Regions from separate parts of the Homo sapiens genome. Here region 1 is linked to region 2. The links come from fine-mapping of genetic effects on gene expression. A gene starts in region 2. The other region holds a variant in brackets. All regions are shown on one strand. Distances are from middle to middle.

Region 1 (2,919 bases), 300 kb after region 2:
GCTGCTGGGAGTGGACCCTTGTGTTGCTGTTCACAGGGCATAACTGCTCCATGCATGGCTGAACTACCAATGGGGGATGTACCTAGATGGAGTTTCTTAAAAATCAGTCATATTAGGGTTGGAACACATTTTTCATGTGGCTTGATTCTGCCCCGTGAAGCACAGGAGTGATTTTTTTAAGAAATGGTTTGTTTAATTTCTTTTCAGAGATAAGGGAAGCATATTTCTTTTTAACCATTAGAAAGAACCTAAAATTTTAAATTTAAGTTTTGACTCTGTTTAGACACCTGTGTCGCCCCTGTCATAATCGTGAGAAAGCCAGAGGCCTTGGGAAATACATCTGCCAGAAATGCCATGCTATCATCGATGAGCAGCCTCTGATATTCAAGAACGACCCCTACCATCCAGACCATTTCAACTGCGCCAACTGCGGGTACTGGAATTGTTTCTTTTTTATTACACAAGCAGTGGGAATGAAAGATTACATTTATCTATATTTCTGTTACTCTAGCAAACCAAATTGTTTTTCTCCAATTTTTAGTCTAGAAAATTTTAAACCTATAGACGAGTCAAGAGAATGATATAATGAAACCTGTATACACTTAATTTCGTTTCACCAGTTGACATTTTGCCATGCTTGTGTGTATACAGTCCACATTCTCGTTTCACCCTCCTATGTATGTGTGCACGTGTGCCTGTATACGCATACCTCTAAAATTTCTCATGAGTCCCAGTATGCGTCTCCTGAGAATAAGAGCATTTTCCTATGGAACCACGATACTTTTTGTAAATTTTTTTTTGCCTTGAGACAGGGTCTCTCTCGCTCTATTGCCCAGGCTGAAGTGCAGTGGGCAATCAGAGCTCACTGCAGCCTCACCCTCCTGGGCTCAAGCAGTCCTCCCACTTCAGCCTCCAGAGTAGCTGAGACCACAGGCACACACCACCCTTCCTGACTAATTTTTTTAAATTTTTTGTAGAGATGGAGCCTTGCTGCGTTGCCCAGGCTGGTCTCAAACTCCTGGGCTCAAGCAATCTACTCATCTCAGCCTTCCAAAGTGCTGGGACTATAGGCATGAGCCACTGCACCTGGCCAGAACCACAATACTCTTATTATGCCTAAGAAAATTAGCAATAATCTTATAATATCAACTATCAGTCCATATTAAAAATATTCCCAGTAGCCCCAGAAATATTTGTCATCACTATGTTTTTCCAATCGAAGATCTAAAAACAAAAAAAGGTCTTATCTCTGTACATGCATAACTTTTACAGTTGTAATAATTAGGTATTATCTTAAAAGATGTTGTTACATTTATTTAATTTGGCTTGGTTTATATCTAAAAGAAATATATTTAATTTTTTGTCTTCAATAAGTTATGATAAATTGTTGGGCTATGAATTTTTCTCAGTTTGCTGCCTAGTATAAAAATTTAGTGGATAAAGATTCTTGGCCGGGCGTGGTGGCTCACACCTGTAATCCCAGCACTTTGGGAGGCCGAGGCGGGCAGATCACGAGGTCAGGAGATCAAGACCATCCTGGCTAACACGGTGAAACCCCGTCTCTACTAAAAAATACAAAAAAAATTAGCCGGGCACGGTGGCGGGTGCCT[A/G]TAGTCCCAGCTACTTGGAAGGCTGAGGCAGGAGAATGGCAGGAACCCGGAAGGCGGAGGTTGCAGTGAGCTGAGATCGCACCACTGCACTCGAACCTGGGAGACAGAGCGTGACTCCATCTCAAAAAATAAAAATAAAAAAATATTCTTTACTGTAGTTAATGTGAACTTACTTGCTAAATTATAGTAGGGATGGAGAAGAAACAGTAAGCCAAATACTAAGAAAACAGTTTGGGCCAGGTGCAGTGGCACACGCCTGTAATCCCAGCACTTTGGGAGGCCGAGGCGGGTGGATCACGAGGTCAGGAGATCGAGACCATCCTGGCTAACATGGTGAAACCCCATCTCTACTAAGAATAAAAAAATTAGCCAGGCGTGGTGGTGGGTGCCTGTAGTCCCAGCTACTCGGGAGGCTGAGGCAGGAGAATGGCATGAACCTGGGAGGTGGAGCTTGCAGTGAGTGTGGATCGCGCCACTGCACTCCAGCCTGGGCAGCAAAGCAAGACTCGTCTCAAAAAAAAAAAAAAAAAAAGAGAAAGAAAGAAAACAGTTTGGTTGTATAAGTTCAGCCATCTCATCTTTTGTGATTGAATTATCAGTTTGTGCCTTATCTCGTTTTCTTGCCTGTCCTTCCTCTTGGGGATTCACCTCTGTCCACTTTTCATTAGCATCTCTCCTAGAGAATTACATAAAAGGGATGAAATTCAAACAAGTCCGTTTGACTAATTGGGACCATCTCTGACCAAATGTTTATTGATGCAGGAGACTGAAAATAATATTTAATTTGAGTATTTGGAGAAGGAAAATTCTGGGCATTTTGTTGTTTATGAAAATAAACCTATTAACCTATAACTATTTTCAACAGCTTGTGACAATTTAAATAATTGTTAGTAAATGGAACTAGTCTCCCAACTTCTCAGTTTGCTTGGAAAGGTCGTGTGTTAGTCTATTTTATGCGCCTGTAACAGAATACCACAAACTGGGTAATTTGTAACCAACAGAAGTTTATTTGGCTCATGGTTCTGGAGGCTGGGAAGTCCAAGATCAAGGGGCTGGCATCTGGTGAGGACCTTCTTCTGCATCATTACATAGCAGAGGGCATCACATGGTGGGGGAAGAGGAGGGGGGAAGGAAGAGAAGGAAGGAGGCTGAACTCGTCCTTTTATAAGGAACCCACCCCCTCAGTAACAGCGTTAATCCATCTGTGAGGGCAGAGCCTTCATGATGTAATCACCCCTTAGAGGTCCTACCTCTCAACACCTCAGAATTGGGGATCATGAACTTTGGGGACACAGTCACACCATAGCAG
Region 2 (2,919 bases):
TGAGGTAGATAATGTTAAGATCCCCAATTCAGACCTGAGGAAAAGCGTGATATGAAACAGAGAAAGATTCTGTAACCTGCCATTGCCCACAGCTACTGGGACTTGGCACAGGGTTCAAATACAGGCAGCCTGACTTCTCTCTGAAGGATGTCAAGCCACAGCCACCATACTCACCTAGTCCCCACATAATGATGGCCCAAGGAACTCGCTTCCTCAATTTTTGCTTAGTTTTACTCATTCATTCTTTCGAGAAATAGAAGAATGCCAGACACTAGGCATACAGCTATCAAACAGTGAGAAAACAACAGGCCCCATTTCATGTGCCTTAGAGTGTAGTGAAGGAGACAGAAAATGCCAACAAGTAAACACGCAAAAACTAACTGTCAATGGTTGCTCTAAAGGAACACAAAGTGCCATGAGCAAGGAAATAGGAGGGACCTACTTGAGATGACATAGAAAGTCAAAGAAGGCTTCTCCAGAAAGGGGGCATCAAAGCTGGGACACGAAGAAAGAGAATCAGACAGCCAGACACACAAGAGCCGACAAGATCTCCAGAAGGAGTGCTGCCATGGGGAGCAAGTGTGGCATGGCCCTGGGGTGCAGGCCAGGCCGGGGGCAGGGACTGAAGCAAGTTGTGAAATTTCTGATTATCAGGGGCAGAATGGATTCCTAAGGCAGCCACTGTCTTCTGTTAACTCTGGAGTTTTCTGCATCCCTTTTGCTTTAAATGAGGCATACATGTTTTCATAGCTGTGATGAAACCCCTACAATTCTCCAGTTTAGCATTATTTATTTTACTCTTAAAAAATAACAAAGCTGACCCTGGCAGATGTTTGTACTGGGAGATTCAGATCCATCCAGGCCCCCACTGTTAATAGCCCACGGGAAAGTCCCTGCAGTCTCTCAGGGAAGTCATTCTGTGTAGAATCTGTAATTTCACAGGCAAGTCCTGCAACTTTTTAATTGTTTAAAATTCCCAGAAGGAATAATTACTGAAATTATCTATGAAGGGTTTAATGGACACAGACATGAGAGCTATAAACAATGTGATACTATGTCCTGTTAACTCACAGAGAACGGAAGGGCTGGAACGGGACCCAGCCAGCAGGGTTTGTGACCGCCTCTGCTGTGACGTCACAGCCTGGTGAGGAGGGGGCTGCAGTTCCTCAGGAAACTGCCAGTGGACAAATTCATAAACAAGAGCTCCAGTTCCCTGGAACCTGAGTCGGGAGACCTGCAGCTCACTTTCTCCCTGTTTGCTGGCCAGCAGGGTTTGTGGCCGCCTCTGCTGTGACGCCACAGCCTGGTGAGGAGGGGGCTGCAGTTCCTCAGGAAACTGCCAGTGGACAAAGTCATAAACAAGAGTTCCAGTTCCCTGGAACCTGAGTCGGGAGGCCTGCAACTCACTTTCTCCCTGTTTGCTGGCCCAGACAGGCCTGTGCTAGAGGGCTGGATAGTGTGGTAGTGTGGTGGATAGAGTGCTGCCTCTATCCACAACGCAGCCATATGCTGACTGAAGATAACTTTGTGTCTGGAAGAGCCCTCTGATTTCTTACACTAATGGCCTTACACGACATGGAGGATTTTACATTTGATGGAACAAAGCGCTTAAGTGTCAACTACGTGAAGGGAATTCTTCAACCGACAGACACCTGTGACATCTGGGATAAGATCTGGAACTTCCAAGCCAAGCCTGATGACCTGCTTATTTCTACCTATCCTAAAGCAGGTAGGTGGAAGGGCTTGCAGGGGAAGGGGAAGAGGAGAGTTAGGAAGGTAAGTGGAAGTATGCATTAGTCATGAAATAAAGAAGTTGATCTGGAAAACTCTGGACAGAGTGATATGGCTAAGGAAAGTTACTAGTGGAAACTGAAGCTATACCGAAACATACTAAAATGACATACAAATTTTTAGAATTCAATCTTCCTATGATACTATGATGTACTTCCTTTTTTTTTTTTTTTCACTTTCCCAGGAGAGAGTGAAAACAGTTAAGAGCAAAAGGGTAGACTTGTTTATTTATTCATTCCCAATCTAGGCCCTTATTGTAGATCTTGTAAAAAGCTGCTTTGAGTGTGTGAGCTAGAAAGGTGATCCTGAGTCTGATTTGGGAAAGAAATAGGGGAGCTTTGGTTCTGCAATGCTGATATCACCTCAGCAGCCCTCCCATCTCAGGGTCTGAGAACCATCCTTCTGATTTCCACCTTCCTTTGTGGTAAGTTTTGAACCAACTGCCTTATCTCAACAATCAGTTTAACAAAGTTGTCTGTAAAAGTAGGACTAGCTTAAGCCGAGCCACCACGTCATAAAAATTGGGTGATGATGAGGTGGAAATAGTTCTCTATAAATATTTTTGCATATCTACATATCTACTAGAAATACATTACTGGGTCCACACACAAATTGTATATACATTTGCTCTTTGCAAAATCAAGCTGTCAAAAACTCTTGTTATACACACACAAACACACACACATCAAAAAATCTAAACCTCAGTATTTTCTGAGACTGTTCAAAATCCTCTTTTGTTCTTATCTCTCAAGATCCTGACAGAAGATTCTGCAGGCACATGGAGGCCTTGGTCTCTTCTTTGTCCATCTGTTTCATTTTGGTCCTGATTTCCCAATCTTACTCATCAGGAGCCCATTCAGGATCAAATTTTTCTGAATGTAAATTTCTAAAAGTAGCCACTGGTGAGGATCACATCTCATCATCTTAATTTCATTGACAATTCCACTTGATTATCAATTCAATACATAAATAATCTTTTCTCTATCTGCCAAACGCAAGTACAAAGATATGGTTCATTTAGGTTTTTCATGGCATTAATGAGGTTTAAGCAATTCAAAAAGCACACTAAGAAAATTAAATACTTGCCATCTAAAGTAATATTTAATCATAACTAAAACCATATACATT

What was found. PIP is the estimated chance that this variant, and not a neighbour inherited with it, causes the effect.
Region 1: its variant is the best candidate, but not a certain one, in a credible set for the expression of SULT1C4 in lung (TOPMed, PIP 0.55).

Annotation. Positions count from the first base shown.
Region 1 is chr2:108,672,597-108,675,515 of GRCh38, forward strand. It overlaps LIMS1 (LIM zinc finger domain containing 1), which reads left to right. Exons shown (of 10, transcript NM_001193483.3): 5 at 284-433. Among named protein-coding and RNA genes, the nearest start is that of LIMS1-AS1, 4.5 kb to the right of the region's middle. The variant A/G (reference allele first, on the strand shown) is at 1,611.
Region 2 is chr2:108,376,778-108,379,696 of GRCh38, forward strand. SULT1C4 (sulfotransferase family 1C member 4) reads left to right here and starts at 1,177. Exons shown (of 7, transcript NM_006588.4): 1 at 1,177-1,729. The coding sequence starts at 1,561.